3 linked regions of the Homo sapiens genome follow. The protein of the gene in region 1 purifies or fractionates together with the protein of each later gene. This does not show direct contact. Each region holds a gene or a part of one and is shown on either strand. Other genes may lie near its edges. The genes, in order: DGCR2, URB2 and KIDINS220.

Region 1 (3,749 bases):
GTGCACATTTGAACTTGATTTAAGATGTGTCATGTGCCGGACACTGTTCTAAGCACTAACATATGTTAACTCTCAAGAGGTCCCTGCTAGATGCTGTTTTTAGCCTCATTTAAAGATGGGGAAGCTGAAATCCAGAGCACTCATGAAGCTAAGGCTGAGATGAGATTTCATCGTAGGAGTCTGGCCTTCCCCCCATCATGCACCCGTGACTGGGGTCTGTGCACTCCAACTGTGTGTCTCCAGCCCAGCCACAGGAGTACCTCATATTATGCTCTGAACAGCTTCCTTAACCCCAGGTGGAGCCACAGACTGCCTCTGTCCCCTGTTAGGTCCCAGGGTCCTCTAGGTGAGGGTGCAGAATCTTTTTCCATGTGGATACTCCAGTCTGAGGGACAGAACCACTCACCCTCTGCCAAATCCCTTCTGTGTTTGGCCATGTGACCACTGATGATGTGTGTTATGATCACTGGGGGTGTGATGAGGAAGAACGGTTGGAGACTACTGCTGAGGTAACTGACAGCGAGATGGTGGGGGGATTTGGGGACCACTGATTGTGATACTGTCTCATTGGCCCTTTCTCCATCTGTGTAGAGAAGGCAGCATCGACTGCTGATTCTAAAACTGTTTTTCTTTCTAGCTTTAATTGTGAAACAAAATTATATCATGAGCCACAGCTCTATCCAGGTTGAACCCACCATACATAGCTGAGAAAAAATTGCCTTCTGAATGCTGGTGCACCCTGGTCCCTTCCTGCTGGTTGTTGGTCCTGTACAGGGCCTGTGCTCAGCTAGGCCCCTTGGTAAGGTAGAGGACTAGAAGGTCGTCTTCCTTCTATTGTTGGTACAGCTAGCTGGGAGAGGCAAGTGACTTGTCTAAGGTCACACAGCTGGTGAGCAGCAGAGCGTGGGTTCAGACCCAGGTGGAGCTGGCTGCTAGCTCAGGGTTCTTTCTCTTTTGCTTTCAGTAGGCAGCTGTGCTGAGCTGATCACATCTCAGGGAGCTGAGAAGTGAACACAGCACCTTGGCTCTGGAGTCCAGAGTTGTTTTTTTTTTTTTTTTTTTTTTTTGTTTGCGATGGAGTTTCTGTCTGTCACCCAGGCTGGAGTGCAGTTGCGGGATCTCAGCTCACTGTAACCTCCACCTCCTGGGTTCAAGTAATTCTCCTGTGTCAGCCTCCAGAGTAACTTTGATTACGGCGCACGCCACCATGCTGGGATAATTTTGTATTTTTAGTAGAGACGGGGTTTCACCATGTTGGCCATGTAGGCTGGTCTCAAACTCCTGGGCTCAAGTGATCCACCTGCTTTGGCCTCCCAAAGTTACGGGATTGCAGGTGTGAGCCACCTCTCCCCGGCTGGAGTCCAGAGTTTTCTTTCATGTGAAGTAGCACAGGGGTTTGGTGCATAGGGAGAGAGTGCATATTTTCATCACAAGGAAAAGTGACCGAGGTTCAGAAGTAGCTGGAGAGGTGAGCTTGCACCTAGCCTTGCCAAATCCTCCTGAGTTTGGAGTGCTTTCCTCTGTAGCCAGTACTGTGACACTTTGTAGAGTTTGTCCACTGGTAGATTTGGCTTTTGGGTTAACAGGTTCATTTTTTTTAGTTGGAAAGTGATGTAATATACTTTCTACCTTCACTAGCTAATGAATTTTCCTTTTTTTTCTTGACAAAAAGAAAACTTTTATTTGGAAATAATTTCAAACTCCCGGAAAAGTTGCAAGAGTAAAGTGAGTGCAGAGAACACCTGCATATCCTTTGCTGAGGCTTCCCTACTGTTGGCATTTTACCTTATTTGCCTTATCCCTCATCTTCCATGTGTATGTGCATATCTGTGTACTCACACACATTGCTTTTTTCTGAACCATTTGAGAATAAGTTGTATGCGCCATGGCCGTTTATCCTTGTACATGTTAACCATTGCAGAGAGTAGAGGCTGCTCCCACTTAACCCCACCCCATCGTTCTCACTAACACCTGCTATGTGCCAAGCCCTGTGTCACGTGGGAAGGTCTCATGGGTGCAGGAAGCCCTGTAGTTAAAGCCCAGGTTGGCCCAGGTGGAGGCAAGCTGGCATCACTGCATGTCAGGGTTATTGTTTTAGTTGGCGGTTCTGGGTTTAGGAATGAAGACTGCTGTTGTGGAAGATTTGTGCTGTGTTAGGCTGCGCCTTCGCTGCTCCACTTCCCAAGCTAGCTTGTGGGCACTTTCCCCACCCCTTCCTTCCCACTTCCCAGAGTACTGAGTGATTATATCCTCTTAGCAGCGGTGGCCGGTGATTTGTTTGTGCAGGTGTCCTTCTAGCAGTGACGGCAGGTAATCTTGTTACGCACAGATCCTCTTAGCAGTAATGGGAGGTGAGTGATCTGTGTGTGTCCTCTTAGCAGTAAGGGCAGGTGATCTAGCTGTGCACGTGTCCTCTTAGCCATGGTGGGAGGTGATCTGGTTGTGCAGGTGTCCTCTTAGCAGTGATGGGAGGTGATGGGAGGTGATCTCATTATGCATGTTTCCTCTTAGCAGTAGTGGCAGGTGATCCGGTTGTGTGCATGTCCTCTCAGCAGTGATGACAGGTGATCTAGTAGTGCATGCATCCTCTCAACACTGATGGCAGGTGATCTAGTTATTGACTCTCTCCTGCTGGACCTGAGCCTTTGACAGGCAGGGAGTTCCTCTGCCTCTCTTGGTTGTTGGCATAAGGACGACCCGATTGGCATTTAGTAGTTTCTTGACTCTAAGTGGAATGCATCAGTGACAACATTTAAGGACCCCGTAGATAGCTCTTGACTGATTAGATGTCTTTTCCTTGGTATGCTATTAGATTTTCTCTTATGTGCTGTTATGTTTGGGTGCTGAGGTTTTGATGACCGTCCTCTTTCCTTTCTTTCACTGCCAGTCTGCAGAGTGGGCTCGGTAATCCCGAGAGACCAGTTTTGGGCCAACAGTTCATTGAGCAGAGTGATGCATGGGCTTGGGTATGGTTATTATGTGATAGCTGTGTAACACCTGTATTTGTGTTTCTGACATGATTTACCAGTTGTCCTGGGAAGTTTAGTCAAAGCCAGTCCATCTCATCCTGCCATTCCAAGCTGTGTGTCCTGTCAGTGTGGACATGGCGGGCTTGGCAGGGCAAGTCTAGGTTGGAGGGTGAATAGCCTGTGGACCCAGATGCCCTGGACCTTCTGGGCATCCTCCTGGGAGATGGGGAAGCTCAGGTCTGGTTTTGCCTCAAATGAGCTGTCTGTAAAAGTAGCAGCTGGGATTAGATCAAGCCTTCTCATCCTGGCCCATGGCAGGCAGTTGGGTATGGTGGCTTAAGAGCATGGGCTCTAGAGCCACACTGCCTAGGCTCAATCTGTTCTACTGCTCACTCTTCAGTTTCCTCATTTGGAACATGGACATCGTAACAGAGCTTTATAGAGATGTTGTGAGGATTAAAATGGGTAAGTATAAAATTCTAAAAAGTGTCTGACATAAAGCAAACTCTTCATCAGGCAAAATGTTAGTGTTAATCACAGATAGAGTTCAGGAACCCTGAACTGAAATGTGAAATGTGAGGTGGTTTGTGCACAGGGCTTATTGGTCGGGAGAGAGCTCCCTCAGGAGGTGGCAGAGTACAGTGGCTCTGAGGAGTGTCTGCCACACAGAGAGTGCTCTTTGCTGTTATGATGGGATCAGAGGGACTGCGTATGACTTGCTGAGAGCCCCCGAAACAGCCATGGTGCTTTGGACAGGGCTGGGATTGTTCATACACGTTT
Region 2 (3,749 bases), on another chromosome or scaffold:
CCAGGGGGGCTGTAAAGGTCGACTCTGTGCAGGAAGACATGAGCTCTCTTGCTTCGAGGCTGTGTACGAGGTCCTAGTTTGCTGCTTGGAAGGCTGCCTTCAGACTAAAACACTTTGATGACATTGAAGGTTAGCCTTGGTCCAGTGAGCACTTGCACCTGGCAGCACCCTAATATGGTGGGGGGACAGGGGTGAACTAAGGAAGGCACAGTCCTGTCCTCAAGGAACTGTAAGAGGCTCTTTGGAAATTAAGTGATTTGGCTGGACATGGTGGCTCACGCCTGTAATCCCAGTACTTTGGGAGGCTGAGGTGGGCGGATAATGAGGTCAGGATATCGAGACCATCCTGGCTAACATGGTGAAACCCTGTCTTTACTAAAAAATACAAAAAAATTAGCCGGGCGTGGTGGCGGGTGCCAGTAGTCCCAGTTACTTGGGAGGCTGAGGCAGGAGAATGGCATGAACCCGGGAAGCGGAGCTTGCAGTGAGCTGAGATTGCACCACTGCACTCCATCCTGGTAGACAGAGTGAGACTCCATCTCAAAAAAAAAAAAAAAAGAAATTAAGTGATTTGTACTTTTTTTAATTTATTTTTTTATGAGACAGGATCTCACTGTGTCACCCAGGCTGGAGTACAATGGCAGGATCAAGACTCACTGCAGCACCGACCTCCCTGGGCTCAGGTGATCCTCCCACTTCAACCTCCTGAGTAGCTGGGACTACAGACGCATGCCACCATGCCTGGCCAATTTTTGTATTTTTTGTAGAGATGGGGTTTTGCCATGTTGCCTGGACTCAAGCAATCTGCCCCCTCAGCCTCCCAAAGTGCTGGGATTACTGGCGTGAGCTGCCACGCCTGGCTCTGATTTGTACTTTTTTAAAGTTGGCAGATTTTCATATCTTTTTAAAGTCAATTTATGGCACTGAAAGTCTGATACATAAGAACCTACTAAGGATGCAGGTATCTATGTATCTCATTGCAGCCAGGACAAGTTAAAGGCTAAAAAGCTGAAGAGGAGCAGATTTCAAAACTATAAACGTACACAGAGCAACCTCCAAAATCAGTGAGCAACTGAGGTGCAGAGCAACATACGGAGGAGGCTGCTGTTTGCACAGAAAGCAAGGAAACCGTTGTAGCAGTAATTGCTTATGTACGCCTAGAATGTAAATAGAGGGCATGAAGTCGTGGGTGCTGGGCCTAGAAGGGAGGTCTTCTCACTGTCCACATGTAGTACTTTTTTTTTTTTTTGAGACAGACTCTCGCTCTGTCGCCCAAGCTAGAGTGCAGTGGCGCGATCTTGGCTCACTGCAAGCTCTGCCTCCTGGGTTCACGCCATTCTCCTGCCTCAGCCTCCCGAGTAGCTGGGACTACAGGCGCCTGCCACCACACCCGGCTAATTATTTGTATTTTTTACTAGAGATGGGGTTTCTCCGTGTTAGCCAGGATGGTCTCGATCTCCTGGCCTTGTGATCCGCCCGCCTCGGCCTCCCAAAGTGCTGGGATTACAGGTGTAAGCCACCGCACCCAGCCGCACATGTGGTACCTTTTGAACACATCACGTGTTCACTTATTCCCAGTTCCAAAAAGGGGAGCAGTGGAAACCAGACCTCTATAACACAGAATTAGCTCAAGAGAAAATATCTTACCTGCAAGAACTCTTCTCACAGAATGAAACATGGAGGTAAACACGGAGTCCTTTTTGGGATGCAGTTCTGGGGCCAAAAAGAACAGAGTCAAAAACTGCAAGGCTGCCTGAAAAGACTGATCATGTCCCGCGAGAGCTGGCAACTCCAACAGTATCTGAGAGTAAACACCCTGGTAGAGGGCAACATGGGAGAGCAGCGTCCTGTCGCTTCCTTGGGAAATGTCGGCCCCTCCATCCCTGCAGTGCTGACCCAGGTCGGCTTCCAAGAGCGTGCTGACGGATGAGATGAGGACCGAGGGAAGGCGCCAGCCCCGGGCCCCCGGCACTGAGCAGAGCTGCAGCACAGCTCCTGTCTGCAGCACAACCTGCTGCAGCAGCTCAGACAGTGCTGCTGGGGCCTCTTGGCCCAGCTTCTGCTCTTTGAGGAAAGGTCCCAGGACATGGCACAACCTGGTTAAAGACACCAGAAGGAGCTGCCTGCCCTGGGGGTTCTGATTTTCTAATTGTTTGCTTGAAGCTGCCTCCGTGTATGGTTTGGAACTAGAGAGGAATGCGGTGATTTTTCTAAAATTGAGCACCAAGCTCAGCTTCATTTGGATGAGCATCTGCATTAGCTCCTCTAAGAACGTCCCTATCACTTGGAGGAATTCCAGCCAAGCGGGATCATCCATCTCAATAAGGAACCTACTACTAGCTCTGAACAATGAGGTCAGTACAACCTCAAAAATATCACTACCATACATGATCTTGAACACAGAGCGAGCACTTTTCCCCTTTTGCAAGTAACCAAGAAGTTGGTAGCAAGTCGTCAAGAACTTGAGAGCCAGTGAGGAGGAGCAAGAGCATCCTAGTTTGGTGACGGCCATGGACAGTAACACAAGAAAATAATGCACATGATAGGGTGGCAAGAGGCTGTCCAGCTGTAAGGCAGAAATCACTTCCAAAAGCCCCAGGATGCTTTCCAACTGCTCTCCCTCCAGCTGGATAGGGAAGTCACTCTTGACCAGGGACAGTAAGTTCTGGGCAATTTCTCCTCTAGGTTCTATACCTTCGGGTCCAGCTTTTGCAAATCTGTTTTCCCAATGACCCACAACCATGTGGTCCTTTTCAAAAAGCCAGGGAAGCTGCTGACTGACAAGACCTGAGTCACGCTGGGCACCAGAACACAGAATGCTGGAGCAACTTGTGGTTACGCACGTTAAGAAAGCAGAATGAAGGGACTGCATCTCTGGAAAGAGAGGGCTATGAAGGAAGGCTTTGGATATTTTTTCCAGTGTGATGTATGCCTCTTCATCTATTGAGACTTCCTGGGCTTTGCCCATGGGTAAAGTTCTCAGCAGGACACTGGCCAGGTATCCCACATCATCTGGACACAGATAGGATATTAAAATTGTGAGATTTGACACAATCAAGTGCCAGTGTGCTACAGGGTATGTGAGTCCACTCACCATCCCAACTTGGCCATCCCAGGAAGCCGTCGTTCTCTGATTCAAGCTTTTTCTGCCGGAACCAATAATAAAGGCAGCATCGCACCTCAAACTTTGGATGGCTCCTTCAGACCGGAAACTAGTTTGCATTAAAGTCCTTTTCATTTTCTGCAGGTACAGCTGTTCTAAGCAATATGTACCAAGAGAGCTGAACTGAGCTGTAAACTTCTCTATCTTCTTCCAATGCTGTGTTTTTACACCTGGGAGCAACGAAGGGAGGTTCGAGATCTCCAGAGCAACACCTATAAGGGGCCCAGACATAGAGTGATACTGGCTACAGTTCAAACTGAACATAGCGTCCACCTGGGCCCAAGTGTAAGAGAGCAGGAGCACAGAGTCACTGACCTTCTGCAGCCACAGCTCTGGCTCTGGGCCTGGGGTGTCCGGGAGAAGGGCCAGCAGGGGCTGCACGAGCTCCCTCATCATCCTCTCCATCATGCACTGTGTCCGTCTGACAATGGGCAGAGGCGTGCTGCTGTCCAGGCTCCTCATGTTGAACATGATGCAGTGCAGCAGCAAGCTCAGTGACAGTGATTTCAGGGCCATGTCGGCATCACTCTGCAAATAGGGCAAGACTAAAGACTGGAACTTCTCCAGCACAAGGGACCACGTGTCC
Region 3 (3,749 bases), on another chromosome or scaffold:
GGAAAACATAATTCTTACTAGTTTGTATTCTAAAATTGCCCTGTTTTCTCTTATTTTATAAATGGATAAAATAAAATAAAGTAGCTGTCTTACCATGTTCTTTTTTAAATGACGTAATACAAGTAAAGAATGCCTTGATGAGAAAGAGAAAGCTCTGAGGGATTCCCATTGGGATAAACAGAACTCATCTTTCCAGTGTGGAACCGAAAACCTTTGTGTTACATTTTTTTCTAATTGTAATATTTGTTAGTGTGATTTAGTGATTATCAAAGTAAGCCACACTTGCCTCATTTTCTCCAAATTCTCATTTTCATGTCATGTAGGACTTAGGATCATGTCACATTTGATGAAACCACATAGGTTTGGGTTTGCAAGGTTAATGCATTTGCATAGTTTTTTTTTCTTCTAAGATCCTATTGCAATTCTAGCAGCTATCAGGAAGTTGGCTAGAGATGCCTGAGATTTGGGGGAAGGTTTTAACGAAGTCTTTATAGTAGGTATTTCACTAAGGTATACTTTTTATATCAGAGTACTGTGTAATAAAGTAGAACGTTAATAACCAGCCTCTAATATTTATATACTTGAAAGAATGACATCTGAGAGAAGTTTTTTAAAGAATTATGAGCATATGTAGACACCATTTTACTCATCTCAGCCAATTTTAGAAAGGTTTCAGATAATGTCAGTTTCCTTACAGAGCTGGCTCGTGCTAGTCCCTGTTTGCATGAGTCAAACACCGGCTTTTCCATGGATAAGCCCCACTTTCTCCTTCAGGCAGCTGGTTGGTGTCAGGAAAGAGCGGGGTCTCCCACACGAGTCCTTTGTGATGATTTTGTTCCCATCGGGGTAGTGGTTTTCTCCCCACTCAGCTCTTTGCTCCTAGACCCCGGCTTTCTGAAGCCCCTCAGAGCCGCTGGCCTCCTCCGTGCTTAGGGCTCCGCGGCATTGTTGCAGCAGGACCTCTGTCACAGACTTGCTGTGTATACTGTTTTCTTCAGGATTAACTTGGAAACTGAACATTCTATTGATTATAAACATAGCTATTTCATAAATTTGCCCCAGTTAATAAAGTCAGGTTTTACATTTTATAAAAGCAGTAAGCTACCTATTATTAATAAAGAAAATGCTGTTGTTTCATTTAGGGGAAACTAGAATTACAGGGAACCAAAAGTAATAACTTCCTTTTTTATGATTTTTTTTTTCTTTGAGATGGAGTCCTGCTATGTCACCCAGGCTGGAGTGCAGTGGCGTGGCCATGGCTCACTGCAACCTCCCGCCTCCTGGGTGCAAGCGATCCTCCTGCCTCAGCCTCCCAAGTAGCTGGGACTACAGGCATGTGCCACCACTCCCAGCTAATTTTTGTAGTTTTAATAGAGATGGAATTTCACCATGTTGGCCAGGCTGGTCTCGAACTCCTGACTTTAGGTGATCCACCCACCTCAGCCTCCCAAAGTTCTGGGATTACATGCGTGAGCCACCGCGCCGGGCCTTGTGAATTTAATAGACTGGAAAATTAGTGGGTGGGCATTCTTCATATCTGTATCTAATATAACGGATAAACAAGTTTGCCAGGCCTACTTCATTTAGAACGTTGTTAGTGACCAACACGCTTATGAGAACAGATGTCTTTGTCCCCTCCCAGCAGCTTGTGTTCATGTTCATATTTTCTAAGATTAGAAAACAAAAACTAACAGTTTTGTTGTTGCTCATGACAGCATAGGTAGTTTTGGAAATAGGAGGGTTAGTTCTTCGGTTGGTCCCAGAAAATGCCTAAGACATTTGGGAAAATATGAAGTGGCTGATGTTGTTCAAATTCAGCTTGTTTATTGTATTATTATATGGGATGATAACCTTTTTTTTGGTCAGCCTTTCTGGTCTCTAGAGACTTATTTAAAACTAAATATAAGCATACTTGGCAATCACTAGTAATTCAGAATATTTCACATTCTGTCTTTATACCCATAATTGTTTTAATTTTTACTCAGGCAAACATAAATGGCCGTGTGTTAGCTCAGTGTAACATTGATGAGCTGAAGAAAGAGATGAATATGAATTTTGGAGACTGGCACCTTTTCAGAAGCACAGTAAGATATTTGTAACATTGTGATGTTTACAACATTATTTTATGATAACATTCAAAATTATTTATAACATTGTAGAAAACCAGTATCAATAAGTACTGGCCTAAACTGGTATTTTTTTCATATTTTTTTAAATTTAAAAACTGCTTCTTACACTTATGTGCAATCCTGTGTTGTGGAAAATACACACAGCAGCACTTGGCAGCCTTTGCCTTTTTGGGCATTTCACTCAGAGATTTGGGGAAGAGGCCGCCTGCCGGTTCTTCATGCTTTCACCTGCCTTAACTCTCATCAGGCTCCTCAAAGCCTTCGAGGCCTTGACCTTCAGCATTCATCCTTATAGGGCTTGCATTGCCCAGGTTTAGCAAGAATCCTGTTAAGTCAGTTTACATGTGTGATCACCCTCAGTATTTGATCAAACGCCTCACTAACCCCCCCACCCCCAGGTGATGTCGGCTCACCCTGGCCATCGGCGTACCAAGAGTCCCCCACTCCTGCTGCCTCCCCTTAGTAATGTTCCATCCACGACCCCCACCCTGCCCCTTGGTGGTAGATCCCCACTCATTCGTGCTTATTCCGAGTTGGACTCCCTTCTGTAGTGAGACTGCTTACCCCTGTTGCCATAGTTCTGAATAAAATCTGGACCTACCGCCCTACTCCTGGCCAGCTCTGGTTTTGACACAAGCCAGCTGCATTTTTCTTTGTCCTCAAGTTAAGTTTTAAACAGAAGTAATAATTTAATGGACAAATTGCAGTGTAGTATATGTATGGTGGTTTCTACCATTGCTTCCTTTAGTATTAATGAACATGAAAGATAAGCTGATGTATAAAACAAATTCACTAGAAATTCACTTACCAGAAGTATGCTTTCTCATTGCTGTTGCAATAGCTTTATAATGTTTGGTATTTCTAAATATTTCTAAAGCTTCTAAAATATGATTTGTTAGTGTAAATATTTATGTTTTTCTTCTGTTAAGGTACTAGAAATGAGAAACGCAGAAAGCCACGTGGTCCCTGAAGACCCACGTTTCCTCAGTGAGAGCAGCAGTGGCCCAGCCCCGCACGGTGAGCCTGCTCGCCGCGCTTCCCACAACGAGCTGCCTCACACCGAGCTCTCCAGCCAGACGCCCTACACACTCAACTTCAGCTTCGAAGAGCTGAACACGCTTGGCCTGGATGAAGGTGCCCCTCGTCACAGTAATCTAAGTTGGCAGGTATTTATTGAATGGCATTTTTCATATTATTGAAGAATAAGCACACCGTTCAGTTCACTGAGATTATATGGGCATTTAGACAGTCATTCAGAAAATGCTTACTGAATACCTAAGTGAACAGGAGACAAGATGGAGGGCTCCCTGTACTCAAGGAGCTGCATCCATGTGGAGAGGGGCAGTCAGTGAAACAAACAAAAAAGTAGCTCATGTAGACATTGATGAGAGCTGAGATATCCATCAGGGTCACAGCATGCAGAGTCAATAGGGATTAGGCCACTTGAGCTAGGGTGGTCAGCAAATTCAGCCTTTCTCAGGCGATCTTCCTGTTGCATTCAGTAACTGTTGGTTGAAGTACATCTTCATTGGAACACTGGCCACATAGTGTCCCTTTGAGCACCATCCTTTGGTTTTCCAGGACGCCTGCACACCCTTCACGGATATTGGTTTCTTCTGG

What was found.
Region 2: the proteins of DGCR2 (region 1) and URB2 purify together in Homo sapiens (co-immunoprecipitation; 2 studies listed by BioGRID and IntAct, with this or other methods). This does not show direct contact.
Region 3: the proteins of DGCR2 (region 1) and KIDINS220 purify together in Homo sapiens (co-immunoprecipitation; 2 studies listed by BioGRID and IntAct, with this or other methods). This does not show direct contact.

Annotation. Positions count from the first base shown.
Region 1 is NC_000022.11:19,115,693-19,119,441, reverse strand, and holds part of DGCR2 (integral membrane protein DGCR2/IDD isoform 1 precursor), read left to right. Parts: intron 1-3,749. UniProt on the Homo sapiens protein: Putative adhesion receptor, that could be involved in cell-cell or cell-matrix interactions required for normal cell differentiation and migration.
Region 2 is NC_000001.11:229,636,146-229,639,894, reverse strand, and holds part of URB2 (unhealthy ribosome biogenesis protein 2 homolog), read right to left. Parts: coding exon 1,648-3,749; intron 1-1,647. UniProt on the Homo sapiens protein: Essential for hematopietic stem cell development through the regulation of p53/TP53 pathway.
Region 3 is NC_000002.12:8,732,990-8,736,738, reverse strand, and holds part of KIDINS220 (kinase D-interacting substrate of 220 kDa), read left to right. Parts: intron 1-1,985; coding exon 1,986-2,084; intron 2,085-3,058; coding exon 3,059-3,295; intron 3,296-3,749. UniProt on the Homo sapiens protein: Promotes a prolonged MAP-kinase signaling by neurotrophins through activation of a Rap1-dependent mechanism. Provides a docking site for the CRKL-C3G complex, resulting in Rap1-dependent sustained ERK activation.